Homo sapiens: one gene and its partners. The protein of the gene in region 4 purifies or fractionates together with the protein of the main gene of each other region. This does not show direct contact. Each region holds a gene or a part of one and is shown on either strand. Other genes may lie near its edges. The genes, in order: PARP14, ARHGAP18, SMU1, KDM4B and RTF2.

The links.
Region 1: the proteins of KDM4B (region 4) and PARP14 purify together in Homo sapiens (affinity purification with mass spectrometry; one large-scale study listed by BioGRID and IntAct). This does not show direct contact.
Region 2: the proteins of KDM4B (region 4) and ARHGAP18 purify together in Homo sapiens (affinity purification with mass spectrometry; one large-scale study listed by BioGRID and IntAct). This does not show direct contact.
Region 3: the proteins of KDM4B (region 4) and SMU1 fractionate together in Homo sapiens (co-fractionation; one large-scale study listed by BioGRID). This does not show direct contact.
Region 5: the proteins of KDM4B (region 4) and RTF2 purify together in Homo sapiens (affinity purification with mass spectrometry; one large-scale study listed by BioGRID and IntAct). This does not show direct contact.

The regions. Positions count from the first base shown.
Region 1 is NC_000003.12:122,710,674-122,716,383, reverse strand, and holds part of PARP14 (protein mono-ADP-ribosyltransferase PARP14), read right to left. Parts: intron 3,120-5,710; coding exon of another isoform or gene 3,109-3,119; exon of another isoform or gene 2,961-3,108; coding exon 2,811-2,960; intron 2,513-2,810; coding exon 2,450-2,512; intron 2,123-2,449; coding exon 1,955-2,122; intron 1-1,954. UniProt on the Homo sapiens protein: ADP-ribosyltransferase that mediates mono-ADP-ribosylation of glutamate residues on target proteins. In contrast to PARP1 and PARP2, it is not able to mediate poly-ADP-ribosylation.
Region 2 is NC_000006.12:129,699,061-129,704,770, reverse strand, and holds part of ARHGAP18 (rho GTPase-activating protein 18), read left to right. Parts: intron 1-5,710. UniProt on the Homo sapiens protein: Rho GTPase activating protein that suppresses F-actin polymerization by inhibiting Rho. Rho GTPase activating proteins act by converting Rho-type GTPases to an inactive GDP-bound state.
Region 3 is NC_000009.12:33,068,779-33,074,488, forward strand, and holds part of SMU1 (WD40 repeat-containing protein SMU1), read right to left. Parts: intron 5,029-5,710; coding exon 4,818-5,028; intron 3,115-4,817; coding exon 2,962-3,114; intron 157-2,961; coding exon 46-156; intron 1-45. UniProt on the Homo sapiens protein: Involved in pre-mRNA splicing as a component of the spliceosome. Regulates alternative splicing of the HSPG2 pre-mRNA. Required for normal accumulation of IK.
Region 4 is NC_000019.10:5,132,159-5,137,868, reverse strand, and holds part of KDM4B (lysine-specific demethylase 4B), read right to left. Parts: intron 3,987-5,710; coding exon 3,808-3,986; intron 2,531-3,807; coding exon 2,308-2,530; intron 608-2,307; coding exon 531-607; intron 249-530; coding exon 193-248; intron 1-192. UniProt on the Homo sapiens protein: Histone demethylase that specifically demethylates 'Lys-9' of histone H3, thereby playing a role in histone code. Does not demethylate histone H3 'Lys-4', H3 'Lys-27', H3 'Lys-36' nor H4 'Lys-20'.
Region 5 is NC_000020.11:56,470,833-56,476,542, reverse strand, and holds part of RTF2 (replication termination factor 2), read right to left. Parts: exon of another isoform or gene 5,602-5,710; intron 4,930-5,601; exon of another isoform or gene 4,874-4,929; intron 4,218-4,873; coding exon of another isoform or gene 4,128-4,217; intron 3,243-4,127; coding exon 3,148-3,242; intron 1,866-3,147; coding exon 1,772-1,865; intron 901-1,771; exon of another isoform or gene 798-900; intron 1-797. UniProt on the Homo sapiens protein: Replication termination factor which is a component of the elongating replisome. Required for ATR pathway signaling upon DNA damage and has a positive activity during DNA replication.

The DNA of each region.
Region 1 (5,710 bases), on a different chromosome or scaffold from region 4:
ATAATTCCTAAGCTAATGAAGATCGGAGTGACGAAGAGGGTAGAGTCAAGGACTCTAGATGGAAAGTGATGTTTTTCACGTGATTGGGGATATAAGAGGAAGGGCAGGTTTGGGGAGATGACAAGGAATGAGAGTTTGGAGTCTGCGTTGAGCTTGAGGTGATCACAGGTATTGCTAACCACCTAATCTCTCCTCTTATGCAGGTGTCTTTAAGGAACAGAGAGGAGGCTCCTTTAACTGCCAGAGGCTGTCTTGATCACAGTCTTAATTCAACTCATATACACCACTAAAAGAGAAAGCTTCTACATCTATCAGTCTCAGAACCAGCTCAGGTGGTGATAAAGATAGGTAAAGAGGACATGCAAGGATAACCCACTAACCCTGATTTATTTGTGCTGACCAGCAATGCAACCAGGTCAGTGGAAGAAACAACAGGATTTGTTGTTGAGTCCAGAATTGAGTCCAGAAATGCTCAAATGTGTACATATTTATACAAAACGAAACCTACCTTCTTTCTTTGTTTCTTCTTTTGACTCTACCAGGGACTCCTTTGGGAAGGTCTGTGGCACCCCTAAGCTGCTTGCTTTCTTGGCCCAAATCAACTGAAGGTGGAAACCCAAGACTAGAGCTCAGAGAAAAAAACAGATGGAGACAGAGACTGAGGAGTCATTGGTGGGTGTCCATAAAAGATAAGTCAGTAGAGAGATGATAGAGATAGATAGACAGATCGATAGATAGATAGATAGATAGATAGATAGATAGATAGATAGATAGATAGATAGATAGATGACTGGTAGAGAGAGATAGGAGAAATGTTGGCTAATCTGCTAGGAATAGATGATACTCTAAGGGGAATGAAAACAAAGGGATCAAAAATTATACTTTTAGAAATAGAAAAGTTGTAAAATAGACATAGAATTCCATCTCGGAACATTATAAGAAATGGTACAGAATTACAGATATGGGTCAGAGGGTTAGAAGAAGGCCCAGAAATTGACAAGGATGGTTAAGTTTATTGAGGATAACCTTTTGGAAAGCCTAGAATGCCAGCATAAGAGATTCAAACTTAGATTCCCGAGCAACAGAATGACAGATCCGATGCTGACTATTCTCGCACTGGAACAAGGCAGCTCCGTTGACTTCAAGCCTAAGAATGCATGCCTCCCCTGACCAGCTCTCTGAAGGAGACCAAGCAGGGATTCCTAAAGAGCTCAAAGAACACCTGTGCAACAAAACTGCACATTCTGCCCATGTACCCCAGTATAATTAAAAAAAAAAAACCACCTAATTAATGATAAATCCAGAGCGCCATCCTTATATATGAAAAATCACGCTATCATTACCTAGTTTTAGGAAAAGAAGAAAATCAAAGAAGCAAGTAGGCTGAAAAGAGGAAAGTGGAGAGTTGAGTTTCTGACCCACTAGGTTCTGGTGACTGAGAAGCTTCTACACAGAAATGCCCTGAGGCCAAGTGACACAGCTGACTGTTGAGCTGAAGCCTGGTAATATTCCTCTGGGAATCAGCTAGAGTGAGGTGGAAGTTGTTGTACTAATATTCTCCATGGAGAGGGGAAAGAGGAGGAAGCTAAGGACTGCATAATGGAGAATATGTAGGGAATGGAAAAAGGGAAAGTAACTGAGGAAAGAGAATGAGGGATGGCCTTTCCACTCTCTCCCTTCTCTTCTCCTCCTTATTTTCCCTTCCCTTCTTTCTGCCTCTCTAACATTCTAACACTCTCTTCAGTCTCCTGCATTTTGTCCCTCTTTTACTCAAACAATCCACAGGCTTTGTCATTCCCTTGGGAGTTGTCTTATGGGGAGGAAGCTGTCCACTCCTAGCTTAATGGTTGCTGCCCTGGGTCAGACTCAGCACTGACCGCATTCACACTCAGCTCCAAATGAAAGGGAAAGTAGATGGCTTGGGATTTAGCCTTGACAGCCAGAGGCTACGAACCTGTCCCAATGGCTGGGAGGCAAATGGATGAGTAATTTTTTTTTTCACACTCCTGCAAAACAGAGGAAACTGAACTCTTGACATCATTTCCACCAATTACATGAATGATATTCTTGCACCTCAAAAATCCACCTCCGGTGATTATATAATCATTTTTGCGCTGCTGAGCTGGGAAACACAGACAAAAAGATGCAAAATTAGTAGAAGTTGAACCCGTCATTTGTTTAGAAAGCAAAATGTATAACTTGGCAAGTAAGCATTTTGTGAAAAAAAAAAAACTCCTGAAATACTATCTTTGATGGAATGCTATGACTTAACTTTACTTTTAACTGTGAGATTACTTTTCACTTCTAAGTGTCTGTGATTGGAATTCTTTAGTAAAATGTATCATTTTAAAATTAGAGTGTTGTCTCCCCAACCCTAAGACTTTTCTCAGCCTCTCCACAGCCTCCCATACAATTACAACTTAGGACCAAAAAATAGAATATGCCTTACCTTGCTGAGAACATTCCCTTTCTACATTTTGTCCAGCACATTCTAAAATTGCTTTGGAGACCCCTACATGAGAAAATCAAGATGATAACAAACATGAGTAAAAAACCACTATGGTATATTTGGATCAGAAGGATTATCTGAATGCATTCTCCATCATCTGAGGAATCCTCTAATTGGGTATTGCTGATGACAAAGAAGAAAACTTCATAAAATAAACATTATTAATTATGGAAAACCCTGTCAGCATAATTTAAAAGTTATTAATTAACAAGCCAAAGTTCTAAAAACCAGTTTGGCTATAGAAACCCTCCTTCATAGCATCTACCATTAACTATTGCACTCATCAAAATTGTACAAGTACCTGCTTTGAGATTGAATGAGTTTGATGTTGAATTTACAATCACATCTGCCTCTTCTTTCGTGATATCTCCAGAAGCCACCTGGAAGATGATGGAGCCAATCTTCATTTCATACACACCTGAATCAGGGCTAGAAACAGTCCCATAAAAACCTGAAAAGAAAAGAAGTAAAGTCAATAACCGAGTCAGCCACAGCAAGAATGACTTGGGTATCCTGCTCACATGGGACCCTCTTGGATGTCTTCCCTCTCCCTCTCTTTCTGTGACCTCTGGTCTTTAACCTGGCCCTGCTCCTCAGCCTCAGTGATGATCTGTTTAAGAAAAAAGAATTAGAACATAGAATCCATATCAAACATGAACTCTGGTGCTGACCAAGGTGAAGTTAGCGTACTATAGCCTATCTCTCCCGTTGATTACAACTAAAAACAGGACAAATACAAAAAGCCACCACCCAAGAGCTCTGAAAAGTTACAATAACAGCAGACAGATTGAAGAAAGGTGCCAAAACTTGCAGAAGCAATCTGCTAAGTGGGGCAGTTTTCCATTTTGTTCTGTTTTAAAATTTTTCCTCTTTTCTCTCCCAGCTTTGACCCAAGGGTGGCCCTAGTCTCACAACATAATATTTAAAATGTCAAGTCTGTATTCCAAAATTGCTTGTTATATAAAGAACCAGGAAAATTTGATCAACCCTTAAGGATAAAGAAAATCAAAAGCTGTCAATCCAGCCAGACACAATGGCTCATGTCTGCAATCCCAGCACTTTGGGAGGCCGAGGTGGGTGGATCACTTGAGTCCAGGAGTTCGAGATCAGCCTGAACAACATGGTGAAACCCCATCTCTACAAATAATACAAATATTAGCTGGGATGGTGGTGCACAACTGTAGTCCCAGCTACTTGGGAGGCTGAGGTAGGAGGATCACCTGAGCCCCCAGAGGTTGAGGCTGCAGTGAGTTGAGATTGTGCCACTGCACTCCAGCTTGAGTGACAGAGTGAGACTCTGTCTCAAAAAAAAAAAGATGTCAATCCTGGCCAGGCATGGTGGCTCATGCCTGTAATTCCAGCACTTTGGGAGGCCGAGGCAGGTGGATCACTTGAGGTCAGGAGTTCAAGACAAGCCTGTCCAACATGGTAAAACCTTCTCTCTGCTAAAAGAAAAATACAAAACTTAGCTGGGCGTGGTGGCACAGGCCTGTAATCCCAGCTATTTGGGAGGCTGAGCAAGGAAATCACTTGAACCCGGGAGGCGGAGGTTGCAGTGAGCCAAGATTGCACCACTGCACTCCAGACTGGGCAACAGAGCAAGACTCCATAGAAAAAAGAAAAAAAAAAAAAAAGATGTGAATCCCAAAAAGATGTGAATTATAGAAGACTTTAAAGCATCTACTATAACTATGATCCATGAGGTCAAAGTAAACACATTTGAATGGATGGAAATGATGTGGAATGAATGGAAAAATAGGATGTCTCTGCAGAGAAATAGAAACTATTTTAAAAAGACCTCAAACAAACAAACAAAAAAAGATAAAAATGAAACAAAAAGCTGGTTCTTTGAAAAGATAAAGAAAATTCATAGACCATTAGTGAGATTAACCAAGAAAAGAAGAGAGAAGATCCAAATAAGCTCAATTAGAAATGAAACTGGAGACATTACAATCAATGCCTCAGAAATACAAAAGATCATTCAAGGCTGCTATGAACACCTTTACATGCACAAACTAGAAACTCTAGAGGAAATGGATAAATTCCTGGAAACATACAACCCTCCTAGGTTAAATCAGAAAGAAACAGAAACCTTGAACAGACCAATAACAAGCAGCAAGACTGAACTAGTAATTAAAAAAAATTGCCAACAACAAAAAAGTCCCAGACCAGGTGGATTCACAGCTGAATTCTACCAGACATTCAAAGAATTGGTACCAATCCTACTGAAACTATTCCAAAAGATAGAGAAAGAAGAAATCCTCCCTAAATCAGTCTAAAAGCTAGTATTAAACTAATAATAAATCCAAGAAAGGATACAACAAAAAAAAACTACAGACCAATATCCCTGATGAACACAGATGCAAAAATCTTTGACAAAATATGAGCTAACAAAATCCAACAGCACTTCAAAAAGATAATACATTATGAACAAGCGTACTTTATCCCAGGGATGCAGGGATGGTTTAACATATAAAAGTCAATAAATATGATACATCACATAAACTGAATTAAAAACAAAAATCATATAATCATCTCAATAGATGCAGAAAAAGCATCTGATAAAATCCAGCACCACTTTATTATAAAAACCCTCAACAAAATAGGCATAGAGGGGACATATCTTGAAGTAGTAAAAGCCATATGTGACAAATCCACAGCCAACATCATATTGAATGGGGGAAAGTTGACAGCATACCCCTGGGAACTGGAACAAGACAAGGATGCCCACTTTTACCACTTCTATTCAACATAGTACTGGAAGTCCTTGCCAGAGCAATCAGGCAAGACAAAGAAATAAAGGCCATCCAAACTGGAAAAGAGGAAGTCAAACTGTTGCTGTTTGCAGATAATATGATTGTATACTAGAAAATCCTAACGACTCATCCAAAAAGCTCCTAGTTCTGATAAACAATTTCAGTAAAGTCTCAGGTTAAAAAATCAATGTACACAAATTAGTAGCCCTGCTATACACCAACAACCACCAAGCTGAGAATCAAATCAAAGCTCAATCCCTTATACAATAGCTGCAAAAATAAATAAATAAATAAATAAATAAATAAATAAATAAATAAATAAATAAAATACCTAGGAATATACTTAACCAAGGAGGTGAAAGATCTCTACAAGGAAAACTACAAAACACTGGTCAAAGAAATGACACAAACAAATGGAAACACATTCCATGCTCATGGATGGGAA
Region 2 (5,710 bases), on a different chromosome or scaffold from region 4:
TTAAAAGGTCCCTCTGGCTGTTATATTGATTATAGAGTGTAGAAGCAGTGGTACTGCTTAATAGGTTAAGGCAGTGGTGGTTTGGGCCAGGGTTTCAGTTGTTTTAGTAATGAACGGGGTGAGCAGTGGAATCTTTTGACATTAGGGCCTGTAGGAGATGGACAAATGAGAATACCTGAAGATTCAAGGTTTTTGCCCTAAGAAACTTGTAATGTTAAAGTGATCATTAATTTAGATAGGGAGGACTTGCAGAGGGGCATAAGGGGGCTGGGGTAAGTTGAGCGAGACATGAAGCTCAGTTTTTTTTTGTTTGTTTTTTGTTTTCAGATACTGAGTCTCGCTGTGTCACCCAGGTTGGAGTGCAGTGGGGTCATCTTGGCACACTGCAGCCTCCACCTCCCAGGTTCAAGCGATTCTCATGCCTCAGGCTCCCCAGTAGCTGGGATTACAGGTGCCTGCTACCATGCCTGGCTAATTTTTGTATATTTAGTGAAGATGGGGTTTCACCATGTTGGCCAGGCTGGTCTTGAACTCCTGACCTCAAGTGATCCGCCTGCCTCGCCCTCCCAGAGTGCTAGGATTATAGGTGTGAGCCCTCACGCCTGGCCTGAAGCTCAGTTTTGAGAAATATCTTTTTGAGATAAACATTAAAGTAAGAACATGGCTGGCTGTCTTGATTAGTTCAGTGTTTTTACATGAATCTTCACAGGATTTTAAAAACCTATGTAGTATACCATTTAAAAAGTTTCTTCATTCTGAATTAGTGTATTATTACCTGATCATATATATATATTTTTTTGTTGTTGAAAAAAAGGGATGGTAATGAGTTTTTATAATGCAATTGTGTAATATTTAAATTTTATTTTTTCTAACCTTAGCTTCTAAAGCGTATTTCCTCATTCTAATTTCATAGAATTTAGTGACTAAATGGATTTAAACCTGTCCATGGGGATAATTGTTTTCCAGATCAATCTCTTCTTCAATTTCATGACATAAGAGTCCTTTGTAAAGGCATTTTCTTCACTGTGGTTTAAAAACCCTATCCATAGTTTCTTCTTGAATTATTAGAGGTTGCACCCGGTGTCCAACTGGGGAAGTCTTAGGTTCATTCACAGACATGTGATATTTGCCTTTTGATTCCTCTCATTGACGAGACCTGTGATTTTTGTGGGCCTATTAAAGTTATATTATCTTCATAGAACTTTTAATTAAGTTTATGCCTTTCGAATATAAGGATTTAGAGATTATCAGAACCATCCCCACCCACACCTTCCTAGAGAAACTTGTTGAACATTTGCTTTGTTGTCCACGGCACATTTATTACTTCTGCATTGTACGATTGCACTGTGCTGCCTTGTCTCTTCTAAGTGGGGCTTGCTTTCATATTTTATGAATTTTCTAATATTTTGAGTTCTGTTATTATTTATCATACTTCTACAAGTGTTGAAGCAATAAAGACTCGTAACAATTGATGCATTTAATGATGCACATGATTGCTACTGGACTGCATGGGTGTTAGGCTTAACTCGTTTTTGATAATTGGACTCATTGCCAGAACAAATTATCTGTTTCACTCTTCTGTTTTAATTCCCCACTGGCTGTAAACATCTGTCTCACAAATTAGAAAAAGAACCCAGCACCCTAGAGGCCAAGGCTGTCCCTGGCCACAGGGATAGTTCCCTCTACTCCTTGCTCATGAATCTGTGAGGTCCATGCCCTGTGGCTGTCTTCTTTCTCCTGCCTCTTTTTCTTCTTCTTTTTTTTTTTGTTTTGGAGATGGAGTCTCGCTCTGTCACCAGGCTGCAGTGCATGGCGCAATCTCGGCTCACTGCAATTTCTGTCTCCTGGGTTGAAGCAATTCTCCTGCCTTAGCTTCCCCAGTAGCTGGGATTACAGGCGTGCGCCACCACACCCGTCTAATTTTTGTGTTTTCAGTAGAGACGGGGTTTTGCCATGTTGGCCAGGCTGGTCTCGAACTCCTGACCTCAGGTGATCCACCCGCCTAGGCCTCCCAAAGTGCTGGGATTACAGGCGTGAGCCACTGTGCCTGGCCCTCCTGCCTCTTCTTGATTCTGTTCTGTCCAAGAGCCCTGAGAAAGCTCTGTCATCATCCTAGTGGTGTCACTGTGATGAGGCCTGTAGGCTGTGGGTCTCAGTGGGAGTCACTAACAGCATGGATCACTCTGTAGGTTTGGGGTTGCTAGACCAGGTATGACAACAATCCTCTCCTGAACCCTGCTGTAGGTGCCCTCTGTCCTGTGCCCACCCTTTCATTTCATACGAATATTTTGAGAGAGATGGTTTGTTCTAAATGTTTTATTCAGTTGATATTTAATGGGCTTTTCTATTTTCTTTCGATAAAAAAGGGATAGAGAATAAGAACTCTCATTATTTGAGGAGAGTGGGGATGAGTCAGGGTATTGGGCATGGATTAGGGCAGGAGGAACGGAAGGGATGTCTAGATCTTTCTGAAGGCACATTCTTTTGACTTCCATGTTTGTTGCTGTGAGCTGGCCAAGTTTATCCTTTTTTTTGCAAGAAATAAACAGAAACCATGGAGACCCGTGTGACCAGTTACTACCTGTAGTTTTTTTCCATACTTAAGTCCACTAAGTATCTGAATTTCTGTGTTGAAAGAGAGTATGAAACCTCATCTCCTTTTCATATGCATTTGGTAGTTGCCTTTTGGCTGCAAAGAACACTGAGGTTTCCTTATGGGAAATGAGGTTTGTTACAGGGATCTGGGTCATAGGGAAAGGAGGCATCTCTTCTTCCCTCAGCAGCTGGTCATATGGGGACACTCATGGCATTTCTGTTCTCTTGGAGACTCTCAATTCTTTTCTACCCACTGGCTTTCTAATCTCATCATTTCAGCTTGAGCTTTTGGCTCCTGATGGATGCCCAGCCTGGTTACCTCCTGAGTCATCTTACATTTCATAGCTAACTGACCCATCTCTTTATTTCCTAATTTCAGTTTTTTGTTTTTTGTTTTTTTTTATTTGAGATGGAATCTCGCTCTGTCACCCAGGCTGGAGTGCAGTGGCATGATCTCAGCCCACTGCAACCTCCACCTCCCAGGTTCAAGTGATTCTCCTGCCTCAGCCTCCTGAGTAGCTGAGATTACAGGCACCTGCCACTACGCCTGGCTAATTTTTGTATTTTTAGTAGAGATGGGGTTTCACCATGTTAGTCAGGCTGTTCTCGAACTCCTGACCTCACGATCTGCCCACCTCAGCCTCCCAAAGTGTGGGGATTATAGGCGTGAGCCACCGCGCCCGGCCTTAATTTCACATTTTTGAAAGGACATCAGATTTTTCCAGTTAATCTTTTTGAACAGGCCATAGTACAACCCCAGGCAGCTTATGATCTGGCTTGTTCTGGATCTTTTTAGAAAAGCAGGGTCTGTGGGTAGTGAGATTCCTGGACAAAGGATGTGGCATCTTTGCTAAGATATTTAGGACATGACACATTTATCTGTTTCCTCATTTATGAAATCATATCGTGTAATGATGCCCTTCCTGCTTCGCAAAGTTAATCATGAAGATCAAATGTGTAACGTTTGAGAATGTTAAAAAATTATGCAGATGAACATTATTACTAAATCCTTTTCTGTACAGTATCTTAAAATTTCCCCAGACATTTCACTTCATTTCACTTAACCAGAGTTGTCATAGTAAACTTTTGAGTTTAATTTGAATTTTACTTTTTTATTATATACTCAGATGTAAGTTCATTGAGGGTGAGAACTTTGCCTGTCTTTTTTTTTTTTTTAAGGGAGGGGTGTTCCTTTATACCTAAGCCTTGGCAAAGTGCTTAGTTCACTTTAGGTAGTTACTAAAAGATTGAATGAATGAATGAGTGTAAGTGGGAGGAGGCGTAGTGATTGCATACACAGATTTTGGAGCTAGATTGCCTGGGTTGAAGTCCTGCTTCTTTCATGTAGCAGCTTGTGACTCTGGGCTATTTAATGTTTCAGGGCCTCAATTTTTTTGTTTCCTTCTGCACACTGGGAATAATAATACCTAACTCAAGACTTATTTTAAGGATTGACTGAGTCAACATATGTAACATACTTACATGAGTGCTTGACATAAAGTACGTGTTTTCGATGATGATAAAGGGCAGTCAGACTGTTACCTGTTGGTGAATTAATTTGGAAATAGTATAGGAAAGCATTGTTGTGATTAATTTGTAAGTCATTTGGGAAATGAATGTTTGCTTCTAATGCATATGCAGTATAATGCCTTTATTTTAAAACTAATAGTGGGATAAGTTATATAAATAGCTCACATTATTTCAATACTACATTTAATATCCAAAAAGTACCCTAAAAAAGTGTTTAAAGGTATTGAACTCTTGTTAGGCCCAGGTGACTGTTTTGAATACCTTTAATGCTTCAGTTTGGGTAGCTATAAAGTTGCAGAGTGTTTGTTACTCTTAATAAGATGGAAAATCATCTAGTGTAGAGCAAGGAAAAGTTATTTGCACCTGTTCCTCAAAGAGCAAATTGACTTTAGGTTATCTCAATACTTGCAGGTAAAAGTACCAATGTATCATTATAGCTAAGTATTTGAGAAAAGAATAATTGTTATACATTTGTGCCCTTAAAATTTATTTATATAAAACAGCTGTTCTTGATTAGGCTGTTCTCATAACCAAGAAGTGATGTTTCATGGGGCAGAGTTCAGCTGAATGTATATCTGTGGCAGAGATCTGGGGGATGTGTTCCCTTCACCCAGTTCTTCTTAAGCTCTGTGCCCCATCTCCTTCCCATTTAGTACAAAAATTTGAAAACTGTACTGTTAGTCTTTCTCCTCATCTATAGAATACATAATAAACTTGCTTACATGCTCCAGGCTGTAGGCTAGGAAGCTATGTCCTCCTAGTCAGTTCTCCAGTTCCTCCCTACACTTGCATTTCAAGTTCTTATCAACACAGTAGTTCCTGCTTACAAAAGGCTCATAAAAGCAGGCTGCTTTGCTTCCACCTCTAAGAGACTGGGGACTTTTTTGGTGGGTGTGGACGTAACTAGCGAAAGGATGAAGTAGAGGGGAGGATAGAGCTGTATGCAATTAGAAATGCAGAAGCCATTTTTCCTAGGGGAGAAATAGCAAAAATGATATTTAAATTCCATGGAGATATTCATTCTATAATTCTACCATATTATGGATTAATTTCTTTTTACTAGCCAGAAAACTTAAAACAGCATTTATTTGTAGCACCATTGCTGTAGGAAAATGGATTCCAAGTTCCCAACTACAGGTTTGGAAATAAACTTTTCCAACCCAAATAAAATCTTCAACTAAGTTGGGGGTTTCTGTTGTTTCTTTGTTGCCTCTCCAGACTTTTGTGATCTGAGATGTAAAAGTTCTGATTTTTTTCTGCTTCTAGTTTTATCTTACTTTAGTACAATGTCCTTCCCCAGGCACCTGGGAGCTTTGTATACTCCAATAAATATGCCTTTGTCTCCTAAACATGTGCCTGTCTTCTATTAGGGATTATGTACTTGTCTACATTTGTCATTGATTTGGGAGTATTTAGGAAGGTGGAAAATGACATACATTCTTGTGACTTTAGATGAATCAGATTATAGCTGTATAATGTAATTAATTTAGTAAAGTAAGAAGTGCTTCGGCTGGGTGTGGTGGCTCATGCCTGTGAATCCCAGCACTTTGGGAGGCCGAGGTTGGTGGATTGCAAGGTCAGGAGT
Region 3 (5,710 bases), on a different chromosome or scaffold from region 4:
ACAGGTGTGAGCCACCACACCTGGCCTCTACAGGAATTGAATTACCTGTCCCAGCAATGCCATGAGACGAGATGGAGGCACCACACTGACTTCGCCAGCTAAGGCCTGGGCAATTGCTGCTCTTCTCTTTTCTTTGCTACTTCCATCTGGGTATGCCTGAAAAAGGAGAGGGTGTAGCATCATTTCCAAGAAGCAACAACAAGATATGAGTGTGCTTATTTAAAACAAACAAGCAGAAGCATACACAGAGGAAAATGTGAAAAGAAATTACCCAGTTAAAGAAGGGATTAGTTGAACTAATTTAGTTTTTGAAAATGACTTCCCAATTCTGCCCGCTTGCATTTCAAAAGTATGAGTTGGGAGAAAACTGAGGTCAGCCAATCCACACTATTATTATTTTTTCACTGAGTTCCTGGCCAAAGGACACACTGCTATTTTTCTGAAAAGAGTCCAAGTAAACCACATTAAACCCAGAGTTGTTCTTCCAGTTTTTGAAAAATTTGCAGAACCAAGAATTCTTTTATACTCTTTAGTAATTTCTTAAATGGCTCCCAGCACAGAAGTGCTTCACCACCTCTAAGTTAAATCCTGTCCTGGTAATCTAAAATCCTTTCCTTTATCCTCATAGATTTTGTAGGTTTACTCTAACATTCTATTATCCAGTGCCTATTAAGTTCTTCTTCCTCCTGAGAAAATACTTGCAAACTACCCATCTGACAAGGGATTAATAACCAGAATATGGCTGGGCAGGGTGGCTCACGCCTGTAATCCCAACATTTTCGGGGGCTGAGGCTGGCAGATCACCCGAGGTCAGGAGTTTGTGACCAGCCTGGCCAACATGGTGAAACTCTGTCGCTACTAAAAATAGAAAAACTAGCCAGGCCATAGTGGTGGGTGCCTGTAATCTCAGCTACTCGGGAGGCTGAGGCAGGAGAATTCCTGGAACCTGGGAGGTGGAGGTTGCAGTGAGCTAAGATCGTGCCATTGCACTCCAGCCGGGGAGACAACAGCAAGACTCTGTCTCAGAAAAATAAATAAACAAATAAATAAATAACCAGAATACAGGGCCAAGTGTGGTGGCTCATGCCTGTCATCCTAGCACTTTGGGAGGCCGAGGCGGGTGGACTGCTTGAGGCCAGGACTTCGAGACCAACCTGGCCAACATGGCGAAACCCCATCTCTACTGAAAACTCAAAAATTAGCTGAGTGTGGTGGCACACACCAGTAATCCCAGCTACTTGGTGGCTGAGGCACGAGAATTACTTGGACCCAGGAAGCGGAGGCTGCAGTGAGCCGAGATCACGCCACTGCACTCCAGCCTGGGTAACAGAGCTCTGTCTCAAAAACAACAACAACAACAACAACAAAACCCAGAATATATAAGGAGCTCAAACAACTCTACGGGAAAAAAATCTGATAATCCAATGTTAAAAATGGGTGAAAGATCTGAATAGACATTTCTCAAAAAAAGACACACACAAGGCAAACAGGTTTATTTAAAGGTGCTCAACACAACTGATCATTAGAGAAATGCAAATCAAACTACAATGAGATATCATCTCACTCCAGTTAAAATGGCTTTTATACAAAAAGACAGGAAATAACAAATGCTGGTGAGTAAGTGGAGAAAAAGGAACCCTCGTACACTATTAGTGGGAATGTAAATTAGTACAACCACTATGGAGAATAGTTTGGAGATTCCTCAAAAAATTAAACATGGAGGTACCATATGATCCAGCAATCCCACTGCTAGGTACACACCCAAAAGGAAATCAGTATATCAAAGAGATATCTGCACTCCCATGTTTATTACAGCAGTGTTCACAATAGGCAAGATTTGGAAGCAACGATAAGTGACCATTAACAGATAAATAAAGAAAATGAGGTACATGTACACAATGGTGTACTAGCTGGACATATAAAAGAATGAAATCCTGTCATTTGCAACAACATGCATGTAACTAGAGCTCATTATGGTAAGCGAAATAAGCCAGGCACAGAAAGACAGACTTTGCATGTTCTCATTTATTTGCAGGAACTAAAAATTAAAACATGGAGATAGAGAGTAGAAGGATGGTTGTCAGAGGCTGGGAAGGGTGGAGGTGGCGGGGGTAAGAAGGAAAGTGGGGATGGTTAATAGATACAAAAAATATAAAGAATAAATAAGAAATAGTATTTGATAGCACAACAGGGTGACTATAGCCAATAATAATTATACATTTTAAAATAACTGAAAGAATTGAATTGTTTGTAACACAAAGGATACATGCTTGAGGTGATGGATACTCCATTTACCCTCATTATGCACTGCATGCCTATATCAAAATATCTCATGTACCCCATAAATATATACACCTACTATGTACCCATAAAAAATTTTTTTTAATCCTTTTTCCTCCTATTTTGACAAACCTCTAGTAAAAGGCTGGGGGGGTGGGCAGGAAGAATGAAACCATACAGATAATAAGGTTTAGGAAGAATGAAACTATACAGATAATAACGTTTTGGAAGAATAAAAGACTATCATCATGCTCTACTGGTAAGCATAATCCGCGAAGAAACAAAAGCTTCTAGGGACTAAAAAGGCTAGAAGGAAACTACAATTGTTAGGGGCAAGACACACAAATGATCAGTGAACATACCAGCAGTCAGGCAGCACTTCGGGGAGGGCTAATGTGGAAATGACATCAGAATAAAATGTTCTGCTTTTTTTACTAACCAACACGCAATCCTCTAAACTGAGGTGTATAGAAGACTCAAATAATCAGAAAACTGAACAAAATTATTCTCTTTAACATACGCAAATTTCAGCCAACATATATAAACAGAGAAGCATCATTCTCAAAAATTAAATCAAAATCACAAAGAGTATACAATAAAATGGTAAAAAAAAAAAAAAAAGATCATGTTATTTCATTTCCAAAGTTAACAAAAAGTTCCTTTTCATTACCACAGTCATACCTCACGAGGATCAAAGTAAGACCTGGCCAAAAGGTTCTCCAGATGAATATATCGCTCTGGCTGTGTTTGTTTTAACATGATCATGGGATCAGTCTGTCTCAAAAGTGACCTGGCAGCACCCAATTCACGGAGCTCTATCAATTCCAGAACAACCTGGACAATTAAAAAAAAACAAAAAAAACCCCAGATGTTTCAACACACCGTCTTATTAATATTTTTCGGTAAAATATCTAACACAGATATGGCCTGTCAAAGGATTTCCAATACCAGGAAGTGCCCCTTTCCATTTTCACTAGCAATTTCAGGTGGACTTGGTGGGCTTGGTGGCTCATGCCTATAATCCTAACACTGTGGGAGGCCAAGATGGGCGGATCACTTGAGGTCAGCAGTTCGAAACCAGCCTGGCCAACGTGGTGAAACAGACTCTCTACTAAAAATACAAAAAAAATTAGCTGGGTGTGGTGGTATATGCCTGTAATTCCAGCTACTTGGGAGGCTGAGGCAGGAGAATTGCTTGAACCCGAGAGGCGGAGAGTGCAGTGAGCCAAGCTCATGCTACTGTACTCTGGCCTGGGCGACAGAGCGAGATCTGTCTCAATAAATAAATAAATAATAATTTCAATCCTTCAAACTCTATCCTTCATTTTTATCTACCAATCTCCCCTCCTCTCAGGCTTCTTGCTCAGAATGTAGATGCCAAAGAAAGCTAAAGATGGGAATATACCCATGGGCTCCAGAGAAACCTTTCTCCAGTTACCAAAATTTTCTTTGGGAATTATTGAACTCATACGGATTGTAAAGAAACAAACTGCCCAGACACGGCAGCTCACACCTGTAATCCCAGCATTTGGGAGGCTGAGGCAGGTGGATCACTTGAGGTCAGGAGTTGGAGACCAGCCTGGCCAATGTGGTGAAACCCCGTCTCTACTAAACACAAAACTTAGCTGGGCGTGGTGATGCACGCCTGTAATCCCAGCTACTCGGGAGGCTGAGGCAGGAGAATCGCTTGAACCCCGGAGATGGAGGTTGCAGTGAGCAGAGATCGCACCACTGCACTCCAGCCTGGGTAACACAGTGAGACTCTGTCTCAAAAAAAAAACAAAAAAAAAAACCCGTAAACAAAAACCAAAAACCAATTTCACTACTTTTACTTCAAATTACAATCTTATTTCCAGAAAGTCTACTCTGCTGTTTTATAATCACAAATTTGTCTGATCTTTGTCCTAGGTTCTTGGCTTGGAGCTTCTTGGAATTTGACCAGTGATAGGGGTATCTTTGTTACTCCTGGGCCCCTTGAATCACACCTGGGTTTGTGCAAAGGAAATGGCTCAGGATAGGTAGGAGCTAGTTATCAGAAAGACTAACTATGTGATTAGAAAGTTGAGGCTCTCTCGTGCCTGTAATCCCAGCCCTTTGGAAAGTCAAGGCTGGCGAACTGCTTGAGCCCAGGAGTTTGAGACCACCCTGGGTATTATGGTGAGATCCTGTCTCTACAGAAAAATGCAAAAATTAGGCAGGCGTGGTGGTGCGTGCCTGTGTTCCTAGCTACTCAGGAGGCTGAGGCAGGAGGAAGGATTGATCCTGGAAATGGAGGATGCAGCAAGCTGTGATCTTGCCACTGCACTCCAGAGTGGGTAACAGAACAAGATCCAGTCTCAAAAAAAGGAAAGAATTTTAATTTGGGAAATCCTGGATTTTCCAAGAAGGGAGAAAAAATACAATGTCAAGCCTTGCCATTGTTGTATGGGCTGATGCAGCCCTACCGTGCTTGAAGGAATGCTCACTGACGCTTTTTAGTTGGGGAGCTGGCCCACAACGAACCAACCCATGGGGATCAGCATCACCACCACTCTTACCTGTTCATAGAGGTCAATGAGGGTTTTGTCTGGCAATTTCAGAGACTGTATAGCCTGCAACACAGTATCCCAATGGCCACTGTTAATGTCAGCCACAAAACTCTCAATGCTGTCCACAGTATTCAGAGACACAGTAGTCTCCTCCTGCAAGGTGGCTAACGCCCGATGTAAACTGTTCTCCTTCAAGTACTGCATAATAAGGCGGATCACACTGAAAGAAAACAAATCGTTCAGCTCAGGGATTCTCACTCACCAGAGGTCAAAAATAAAGCCTATCAAGCTCCTACTCAATCATCTTCCTTTCACTACTATTTCTTTATCATGTGAGTAAAATTTTCCAAAATCACAGAATCTAAATTATAAGGGGACCCCCCCTAACCATAGAGACAGAACTGGGGTTCAAGGAAAGGAAATCATTTGCCTAATGTCTCAGTCAGCTAGAAAGGGAGTTGGTGTCAAGGTGACTATCTTATTTCCTAATCCAGAGCCTAGTTTCCTATTCATTCTTGTAATTATATTGTAGCACACTTCACTGAAATACTTTAAATGACTAGACTAGTTATTTATACAAAATAATCTAAATGAGGTTGGGCATGCTGGCTCATGACTGTAATCTCAGTAATTTGGGAGGCTGAGGCAGGAGGATTGGCTGGAAACCAGGAGGTTTGAGACCAGATCAGGCAGCTGTGAGACCCCATCTCTACAAATTTTTTTTTAAATTAGCCAAACATGGTGGCATGTGCCTGTAGTCCCAGCTACTTGGGATGTTGATGTGGGAGGATCCCTTGAGCCCATGAGTTCAAGACCAGCATGGGCAACATAAGAAGACCCCTTCTCTACACACACACACACACAAAAAAAAAAATTAGCTAGGCATGATAGTGTGTGCTTGT
Region 4 (5,710 bases):
GGGCCTGGGGAACTTCAGGAAGGTCGGTGCAGGCGTATGCTCCTCCTCAGCCCTGGCCACCCCATCCATGACACAGGGCGGTTATGTGGAGGTGATGGTCAACCCCTAGGCACTGGGGTCACACCCTGCAGAGCCTCAGCCCAGGGCAGGCTCCCCTCCGGCCCTCCAGCCCCAACGCGCGGTGCCACCCACCTCCTATCGGTGGTCATCTGCAGCGCACCTCCTCGCAGGTTGCACAGGCAGCACTCCTGTGGAGACCAGACAGCCCTGGATGAGCAGGGCTCGGAGCAGGCTCCCCACACACTGCTTGGGGCCTGATCTGCCAACCGTCCCCAGCCCACGGCCCTTATATTTCAACCTAGCAGCCACCAAAGTGACGGGTGGGAATCCCTTGGGTTCCACCCCCTCAGGGCAGAGGTGAAGGAACCCAGGCCCACGGAGGGGAGACTACGCCCCAAAGTCACCCCACTGGAGTGGGGCCGGGGCCCAGGCCTCTCAGAGCACCACCCCCGCTGCGGGGAGCGAGTTACCGCAGTCCAGGCGTGGGCCGCGCACCGGGAACACGTCCAGCCTTCATTGACCAGCTCGGGACGGATGCCATAGCAACCTGGAAGACAGCGGGGGCTGGCTGAGATCTGGGGGGCAGGTGAGACTTGGGGAGCCGAGTGAAACTCAGGGGGAGGGGCCGGGTAACTTGGGGGCCAGTGTCCGTATGTGGAGTGACGAGGCCTCCGCACGCAGCTGCAGCATTCAGGGTGCGTGCTGTTCCCACCCTCTGAGCTTCAATCCAGGCCACTGCATGTGGAGCGAGAGAAAGGTCTGGAAGCTACTTGTGTGGAAAGAGGACGCAGGAGGGGAAGCAGGGACCCTGAGCTCCAGCTGGGTCTGCCGCGCTCAGCCTGGTGGTGTCTTGAGGGCCCCTCCTTGTTGGGTGTCTGCACCCCCAACAGCAGCTCCTCCTGCTATGTCCAGAAAGGCCAAAGCCGCAAGGGAGACTCACTGTGGGATGTGGCCCTGGGTCTGGAAATGGGGAAAGGGCACAAAAGGCCGAATCATGCCCCCAGAGCGAGGGCAGGGGTGCCGCCTGCCCCCCAGGGCTCTGCCTCTGCTGGGGATCACTGCCCCCAGTGTGGAAGGGGCTCTCTGCCAGTGCTGATGGCCCACTGAAGAGGCTGGGGGCGGGGACCTCACTGCCTCCAGAGCAGCAGGGTGGTGGGCACGGCTGGGGGTGGGGGCGTCTGCTGGGGTAGCCTGGCTGGGGCGGCCCGGCTGTGGCAGGCCTGGGACCCTCGGCAACCCTTCCCCCAGGGAGCCCATCTGCCCCGGGGGCACATCTCAAACCCAGGCCCAGCAAAGCAGAGTGAAGAGCCTCCCAGCCAGGAGACAACGCGAGCCCCCAGGCAGGCCACCGCCAGGAGGAAACCGACACAGATCTATGGCTGCCAGGGGCACAGAAAATTAAACGTCTCCAGAGAGCCCTCCTCCTTCCCTGAAAGTCCAATTCCTGCCACCGCCCCCCCGTGCGTGGGAAAGAGACAGACATCCATTTTCTTGTCTGTGACCATGGTCGAGCCTCAGGACTGGGGAGGGGTCCCTGAGAGCAGAGATAAATCAGACGCCCTGACCACGCTGCAATCTCACTGTGACCATCAGTTTCAACCACAGCCACAAATCACAGGCGTAGCGGCTGCCTGAGTTCCTCCTGTCGCCTCCCAGGCCTTGGAGAAGACTCGGCAGAACTGTCCAGAGGGCCAGTGAGGAGGAACCCTGCCTGGGCCAAGGTCAAGGGCAGGGATGTTTGCCCCCAAAGGCTGCTTGGCAGAGACAGCCATTCTCAGGGAACACAGCCTGCGGAGAGACGGGGTGCCTGGCCCATTTCTTGCTCTGGCCCTAGGGTGAGCTTCTGGGTGTCAGGGACAGGGTGGGATGAGCCCAGTGCCCCTTGGAGCAGAGGCTTCCTCCGCAGAGGCTGGCACCAGAGGCCAGCACCTGGGCCTGCACTGGCATCTTCTGGATGCTGGGGGCGGTGGAGGCCCTGTCCTGCCCCAGGGTGGCATGCGGTCATCCAGCCCTTCCATGGCCACAGCCTTTCCCCCTGCTCTAGATGGTGGGACCACAACGGGAAGGATGAGAAAGTCAGAAATTGCAGGAAGTCACCGGGGGAGGCCCCTGCCCTGGCCCTGAAAGTGCAGCCTGGGGAGAGGGGCCGGTGTGGCCCTCCGCAGGGGAGGATGGAGCCCCCACCGGCACCCCCACCAACACCCTGAAGGAGGGCGCAGCTCCTCTGGGCCCCACAGTGGCACTCACTGGCATGGACCTGCAGGCAGCACTTGCCGCAGGCGATCAGGGGGCTGGTCCCGTCGTCGCCGATGTAGGAGTTGGCAGGCAGCGGCTCCGTGTTCTCACCGCCAGAGGTGAAGCACATCTCAGGGATGAGCGGTCGGGTCTTCTGACGGCTTTTGGAGGGTAATGTGGCCGGGCAGCCCTCTCCGAGGGAGGCTATGGGTGCCTCCTTCTCAGTCTGTAGGGCCTGTAGGGGAGAGGCGACCTTCAGGGGACAGAGCCATGTGTGGGGCAGGCGGGCGGGCGGCGCGGACCTCTCTCAGGGCACCTGCCCCAGGCTTCGACACCCCCTGGCTCTGGAGGGGGAGGTCGGGGAGATGGCCAGAGCCACCTCGGCCCCTCTTCTCACTCCTCCAGAAAGTCAGGATCCCCAAACACTGTCTGACCCTGTCCCCAACCCGCCGAAGACCTTCCCATGAGGGTTGCATCCAGACACAGAGCTCAGGCTGGCCTGTGTGGCCCCTGGTGCTGGGTGGCCCCTGGCGCTGGGGTATGCTGGGGGTGGTGTGTGATGAACGAGTCTCCACACTCTGCCTGGCAAGGGGAATTAGGAAGACGCATGTCTGAAGTGGCATTCCAGGCCCTGTGGCTCCCAGCAGCCTCTCTGGCCTCACAAAGGACAGCAAGTGCCTGGAGACGGTGTCGGCTGTCAGGTCTTGTTTGTCTCAGGAACCAGAGCACTAAATCCAGCTCCCAGCAGCAGAGCCCCAAGACAGGCTCACCACCCTCGGCACAGCACTCTCCCTGGCTCTGTCCACCCAGACCCGGCCGGCGCACAGGCCTGGGGGGTGACGTCCCCAACCCAGGGCAGCTCTGCTGATGCCTGGACATGCTTGGCATGGGGCTAGGAGCTGGGAGTGCAAAGCATGTGGCCAGGTCCTGTCCTGGGGAGGCTGCATGCCCAGGGGAAGAGAGAAGGGGGGATCTAAGAGATCCGAGGAAAACGGCTGGGCTGGGTGCTGATGCCTGGGATGGCCGTGGGCAGAGGCCAGCTCCCCATCTGGGTGCAGAGGACAGGCGAGGCCAGCATGGAAAGAGCACCAGAAACAGGACCTTAGCCAGGTGCCCAGCTCAGCTAGACAGGCCAGGGTTTGCGGGAGCCCCGCCCGGCCACCCAGGTGGTGTACCTGGGCCTTCACTGCACTCCCACACCACCCGGCCCATCTCAGCGCCCACCAGACACGGGCGCTCCCTGAGGGCAGTGACCCCGAGCCTCCGCAGCCTCCCTCTGCCCCATCCACCATGGCTCATGTTGCACATGGGCACGTTAGTAAGCTTCATTCCAATAAAACCCAGAGACCAGGCTCTGCCTACGGCTGTCAGGAACAAGCCCTCACAACTCGGGGTGCTGGCCAACACCCTGCCCTGCGTGAGAGAGGGAGGCGTGTGGGGTGCCCGGTCCCTCGCCCTCTCCCACCGCCCCTGCCTGGGGTTCTCTGGGACCCGTGAGGCCCGCCTGCCCACCTGGCAGTAGGGGTAGAAGAGCGTGCAGATGGCGCAGTAGGGCTCCGTGCGCGCAGCCGCTGCGTTGAACTTCCTCTCGGCCTGGAAGCTGGCCGCCCTGTTCTTCCACTGCAGAGACAGCAGCGGCCTCAAGGCGTCCGGGTCACTCACATCTTCCTCCCCGGAGAAAGGGGATGCCTCTAGAAGAACAGAGGGGAGAGGGAGAGAGACACTTGAGCCCCCTAAAAACTCGTCCAAGGAATCACCCCAACTGCCCAGGGGATGGCCCCGGGTCTACAGCCCTGGCTGCCCACAGGGTCCCTGGCCCATAGCTCCCCCTCCACCTGCCTCCTGGCTGCCCCATTCTCCACAATGCCCATCAAGCTGACACTGCAGCGTCCCATCCCATCAACAGGAGGGGGACACGTCTGTCTCGGCTGACTGCCACCTGAGGCCAGAGCCCCCAAACATGGTTCCTCTGAGCCCCTCCCCCAACACCTGGTTCTCCCTGGACATCCAGAGCCGTCCACTCACCCAGGGCCTTCTGGGCCAAGGACTGGCCAAACTCAGTGCCCAGCCCTGCCCCGGCTGCCCTACACCCGTCCTGGGGTCTGAGTCTGAGTGGGGGCGTCGGCAGTGACCAGCCGAGACTCAGAGACACTGTCCTTCCTGTCTTAGGTGGGCACAGACTCACTGAACTCAAGGGAGGTGCCAGAGGAGTGCGACAGGGAGTCAGGAGGGGCCGTGACCAGGGCTAGGAAGCCAAGGCAGCCCGCCCCAGGAAGAGCTGCGTGACGGGGACACTCTCCCGGAAGGCAGGTCTGCTGCTGAGAAGCCGCGGCGGTCTCTCTCCCACCTGTTGCCTGTTCCCATTGAACTCTAATGGCCTCCATTGCCAGCTGCCGCACCCCAATCTCCCCACGTCCCCTCCCTGCATCTCCTGTGGACACAGGGGTGCTGTCCCCAGGAAGTGGGGTGCCCACTCCTGTGGCCCAATCCTCAGCCCAACCTAAAGGGGAGCCTGGGGTCCTGGGATCAGCCCAGCTGTGGCACTGCCCCTGGTTCACCTAGAGGAGGGCAGGGCAGGGCAGGGCAGGCTCCCCGAGGTGGAGGCCCAGGTCTCCCATGGTGGACTCAGGAAGCCCTTAGGCCAAGACTCCTCTGAAAACCCAAACCAGACAGTACCGCCAGCGGAGCCCAGGGAAGGCCCTAAGCGGCCCCGAGGCCCTGGGGATGAGAACAGAGCCACTGGCTGCGTCTGTCACTCACAACCCCAGAATGCCTGGGGTTCTGGGGCCGTGATGGTCTCACAGGCAAATGCTCCGGTCTCACCAAAGGGTCACAGTGGGGTGTGGGGAGTGGGGGAGTCCACGGAGGCCCCAGAGATGCCTTCTGGAAGGATACCTGGGTAGAAGGCAAGACCCCTTCCCAAGCCAGCCCGCGGGGGCCCCTGGTCATTCCTCTGTCCCCGTGCCGATTCCTCCACTCCTGGGAGCTCCCGCCCTGTGATCCCACGCGCTTCTAGAACCCTCCTCTCCCCACCCCTCCAATTGCATGCAGGATGAAAGACGCCATCCAGACCATTTTCAGATTCTACATGCATCCCCAATGAAAGGCCGAAGCAGAAGTTGAAAAACTGGCTTAGCAGGACTTCTGCACACAAGACAGCAGCTCTCGGCTGAGGGTTAAATCGAAGATTCCATCTCCTCCCCTCCCACTCAAAGCTTCGCGGGAGCCTTTTGTTCCAACCTCTCCAAGTCCTGGAGAGGCCTGTGCTCAGCCCTGGGAGGAATCTTCCATGGGGAGGTACAAGCTCCCCAGCCCTGAACCGCCCATCATGGGCAGCCCAGCCAGCAGAGCAGAGCCGAGCATCTCTAACAGCAGCTGCCTCCCCGCACGACCACCTGCCCCAGTGACAGCCTGT
Region 5 (5,710 bases), on a different chromosome or scaffold from region 4:
GGACAACAAGAGCAAAACTCCGTCTCAAAAAAAAAAAAAAGAAAACAGAAAACAAGATTTTTTTCAATTCACTGACTAGCAAGTAAATCAGTTATTTCTACTATCCACATCTTTTTAACTTAAGGAAAAGTACCCTCTTACATAAAAAATTACTCCACTAACAGAAAGCTCTGCATGAGTTCCACCCAGAAGGGAATGCTTTCTCCCTGTGATGAATCCTCTCTGAGGCTGCTTCATGTTACTGACTATCTACATTTATTTAATCGTTGAAAAAAGCAAAAACAAAAAAATATATATATAAAATCATTGAATAGACAGTAAAATCTGAGGCCACGGTCTAACGAGCTAAGGCAGAATATTAGCCAGAAAATACTGTCACACTCCAAGACACAGCTATTCAGGTTTTCAAGAATTCCCAACTTTATAAGGAATTTGATACAGTAACTCTACTTTTGCATTCGAGGCATTTCTTCATATTTAATGAGACCATTTTGACTTCAATACTCTAGAGAGCAGGTGAGTGTCTTGAAAGGCAAATCACCATTCATACGATCAGCTTCCTGGTCGAGAATGAGCACGTCTCACTGAGTTCTCTGCTCCGAGTATTTGTGGACTATCAATTGACGGTAATGACAATCTTATGTATTAGCATTGTTTTATTTGTATGCTTTTTTTCTTTACTGTTCTAATTTCTTGGAGTTTTTTTCCATTAAATATTCAACCACATAAAACTGAATATTACAAGTATTTTAAGTATAGAACTGTATGAATTAATTTCAATAACTGTTTTTTTTTCTCATCAGATGGGTAATGTGCTGATGTCACAACAAGGCTTGAGAGAGGCACATCTTACATGTGCACATGGAAACCCAATCATAGCATTATGAACTACTAAAGAATCGTTTATCACATTTTTGATGTAAGATGATTCATACTACCACAGGTTTTTCAGGAATAAATTCTCTTCCACAAGGTAAAAGACCACTAAAATCAGAATAATTTCTAGAGCACTATCATTAGCTACATTTCAGAATTATGAATTTGCCTGAAATGAACATATCCTATAATCAACCCCAAGCATTTGAACAAAAAGCCTAATAATACGAAAGAAAGAAAGAAAAAGAAGGCAAAACCTAGAGCCTTAGACTGGGAGTTAGGGGATCTGGTTCTGGTTTAAGTACTTCGCTAGCCATGGGGCCTCAAGTGAGTCATTTACAGTGAGATGAAGGGTTTGACTAGCCTGATGGTTCTCAAATTCTTCATTACCTTTCCAAGTTTTTTTCCCCACTGACCATATTTAAAAAGTTGTGTCCTCTCAAGAAATTTCCCTTATTAAAAAAACTTGTTTTTTCAACTTTTATGAAAGAACTTTAACTGCCAATCAGAACCTCTAATCACCAGATGGTAGCCACGTGATTTAACAGTGATCCATAAAATTATCTAATTCACAAAAGTATCTTCCAAATCCAAAATCCAAGTAGGTGAATCTTAATTACAAAAATAATGCCTCCTAACATTAATAGAGAACATCAAAATTTTCAAAGCACAACACACAGGTGAAATTACAACAGATTTATAATGTAGGAAGTATGCATGGTGGAACTCGTGGCTTGAGATTTAAGTGACCTCTCAAGATCATACCTGTATTAGATGGCCATGTGGGAATGGAATCCCAAATTTCTGAGTTCAGTCTTTAAGGCGTATAAATTCTATAAAATAAACCTCAGCCACTGTTCAGACCCTCACAGCACTTCAGAATCACTCGTGTTACCTTAATGCTTTTAATGTGAGATGCTGCCTTCCCAAGAGCCTTTTCTGCAGATTTGTCCAAGAGAAATTCAATGACGGCATCTTTGTTATAAAGTCTGCAATAGTAAGTATTAGAATATTATGTCAACAAGCGACTTTCAAATAACCAAAGAAGGAAGAATAAACTGAACACAATCCAAAAGTCGTTTACATTTGATAAGAGAAATACCCTGAATTATTAAAAAGTAAATTTAACCCTGTTTCAACTATTTCCAGAGCATACAAAGAAGGAAATTATTTATTTATTTATTTGAGAGAGAGTTTCACTCTTGTCACCCCGGCTGGAGTGCAATGGTGCAATCTCAGCTCACTGCAACCTCCGCCTCCCGGATTCAAGCAATTCTCCTGCCTCAGCCTCCCGAGCAGCTGGGATTACAGGCGCCTGCCACCATGCCTGGCTAATTTTCATATTTTTAGTAGAGACAGGGTTTCACCATATTGGCCAGGCTGGTCTCAAACTCCTGACCTCAGGTGATCCACCCACCTCAGCCTCCCAAAGTGCTGGGATCACAGGCATGAGCCAATGGGTCCAGCCAGAAATTAGTTTAAATCAAAGGTGGCAAACTGGCAGTCAGAAGGCTGAATGTAACCTGAACAAGGCTTTTTTTAATTGGGAAATTTAACGTATAAGTACGTATTTCTTCTTTTTTTAAAAAAATTAAAACCAGAAGGTGTGGAATCACTAGGCCAACACCATTGAGCTGTAAAAACTGGCTGGAACTGAGTGGCAGCTCCCGCTTTGGACAGCACATGGACCCTCCAGTATTCTCCATTCCCTGCCATTCTCTCCTGTTCCTCACATGGCTCCTTCATGTGTTTATGCTTATAATTTAGCTTCTATTGGCCCCTGAGTTTGCTATTTTTTTTGCACAGGCTGGGGTGCAGTGGTGGAATTATAGCTTACTACAGCTTCAACCTCCCAGACTCACAGGATCCTCCTGCCTCAGCCTCCTGAACAGCTGGGACTACAGGATCATGCCAGCCACCAGGTGCCTGGCTAATTTAATTTTTTTGTAGAGGTGGGGTTTCACCACATTGCCCAGACTGGTCTTGAACTCCTAGACTTAAGTGACCCTTCCTCCTCAGCCTCCCAAAGTGGTGGGATTACAGGTGTGAGCCACTGCGCTCAGCCCAGCCCCTCAGTTTTCAAACCATGGATTAAATAAACCAAACTGACTAGAAGAGTACAGAACTATGTTCAGAGACAGGGAACGACAGCCTATGCCTCACAAATTTGCTTGGGATAATCCACGCTTGATGAATGGAAAACTGCATTTACACATCAAAATTCTCAAAATCACTTAACAAACTCATCTTGATTAAGTGTAAAAACCATACCTGCCAAGTTCACAGGCAACTATTGGTCGTCTTAATATTTCCTGACTTAGAGTACAATAGTTCCATTGGGCCACTAATTCAGCATCTTTGTCGACCTAATAAAAAACAAAAAATTCAATTAATTTTCAACTCTGAAAGACACATGGTTCACAATTCTACATATAAAAGTATATTCAGTAATACCGCACTGTAATGATTTTTGTTTTTTAAATCAAAGATAATGACATAGGAAGTTGGGTTTTTGGTTTGTTGTTTGTTTGTTTTTGAGACGGGGTCTCACTCTGTTGCCCAGGCTGGAGTGTAGTGGCGCAATCTTCACTCACTGCAACCTCCACCTCCTGGACTGAAGCAAACCTTCCACCTCAGCCTCTGGAGTAGCTGGGACTATGGGTGCACACCACCAGGGCTGGCTAATTTTTGTATTTTTTGTAGAGACGTGGTTTTGCCATGCTGCCCCCAAACTCCTGGACTCAAATGATCCGCCCATCTCAGCCACCCAAACTGCTGGTATTGAAAGCATGAGCAACTGTGCCTGGCTGAAGTCAGGATTTTAAAAGTCACAAGTAATTAATACTACATCAAATAAACGCCCATCTAAATATGACATGTACAAAGAAAAAGAAGATTATATAAAATTATTAAACTGTTTATGCAAGCCACATACAAATATTAACATCTGAATCTTAATAATAACTTAGGGAGGCCATACAAAAGAGAAAAAAAAAAGTGTGTTAGATTAATTTCTAACAATGGGAAAGCCTGCTAAGTTGCGGCAGAATTTAAAGACTTAAGAACTGAGAAGACAAGCATTTTTTTTTTAAAGTTCAGAACAAAGACTACATAATTCTTTATAAAATGTTCAATTTAACAGAAATAAGTGTTTTGGGGCTTATTCACTAAGGGATACATCAAACTTTATCCCCAGTATGAAAATCCAGACATAAGACCCTCCCTGGCCCTCGAATGACATTTTCACATACATCATATTCCATGTCCCACTCCTTCCCGTTCTTGTTTTTTCCTTCACTGTGTAGACTGCACCACTCTTTCCCATTCTTCAAATGCCAAATCTGAATAATTTAACAGGACAGCACATTTGGAAGAAAATAGGAAGAGAAAAGAAAAAAAGAAGACAAAAACAATCCTGCTGAATTTATTTTATTAATTTATTTTTTGAGACAGGGTCTTGCTCTGTTGCCCAGACTGGGCTGCAGTGGCACAATCACAGCTCACTGCAGCCTCAATTCTCCTGGGCTCAAGCAATCCTCCCCCTTAGCCTCCCAAGTAGCTAGGACTACAAGCAAGCGCCAATTCCCAGCTAATTTTATTTTATTTTTGTTAAGAGGTCTCCCTGTGTTGCCCAGGCTGTTCTCCAACTGCTGAGCTCAAGTGATTCTCCTGCCTCGATCTCCCAAAGGGCTGAGTTTACAGGCGTAAGCCAACACACCTGGCCCTCTGAATTTAATTTTTAAAGTAAAAACTGCTTAAGTGCTTACTGTGTGCCAGGCACTGTGCTAAGCAGTTTCCATAACTTTTTAATCCTCAGAAAAACTCTATGAGTTAGTATTTTTACTTTTGAAGATGAGGAAAGTGAGGCACCAAGAGATTAGGTTATATTCAAAAAGCACCTCAGAGAGTTGGGGACAGGGAGAAAAGTGACAAATCACTCCTTATCCAGGGCTTTGAAAATTGTTTCCCCCGAAAAAGCAGTAAAAAATGTGTTTACCAGGGTCTCTCTTCTTTCCTAGGGTCTTTCTTCTTTTAAGTTTTTACATATCTGTACTGGAAAGACAAGTACAAGTGGTTTTGTTTTGTTTTGTTTTTTTTTGAGACGGAGTCTTGCTCTGTCGCCCAGGCTGGAGTGCAGTGGCGCTATCTTGGCTCACTGCAAGCTCTGCCTCCTGGGTTCACGCCATTCTCCTGCCTCAGCCTCCCGAGTAGCTGGGACTACAGGCACCTGCCACCATGCCCGGCAACTTTTTTGTATTTTTAGTGGAGACAGGGTTTCACTGTGTTAGCCAGGATGGTCTCGATCTCCTGACCTCATGATCCGCCTGCTTCAGCCTCCCAAAGTGCTGGGATTACAGGCGTGAGCCACCGCGCCTGGCCAGACAAGTGTTTTTTCTATACTTTCACTCACAACACTCAATACTTCCAGAACACTTCGGACAAAATGTATGGGATTTTCCCCACACCAACCAATTCTCTGATAGCAGCCAGGTGTCTTACAATTAAACTCAATTCTGATACCACCTATTTGGATATGGCCTCAGATCCCAAAGGTTAAGGGCTCAGTCCCATAATACTGTCCCTACCCCGACTTTAGATGCCAATCACAAGTTCAAGTTGTCACCTGCACTTCTGACTGTCTATAAATCAAAGGCTACCACGATCCCCCCGCCCAGTTTGATGATTTGCTAGTGTCTCACAGATATGGGGAAAGAGTTTAGTTACCATTGCTGATTTATTACAAATACATTTTAAAGGATACAAATAAATAGCCAGATAAAGAAGTAATCTGGAAGGGTCCCAAGTGCAGGGCTGTCCTCATGGAGTTGGGGTA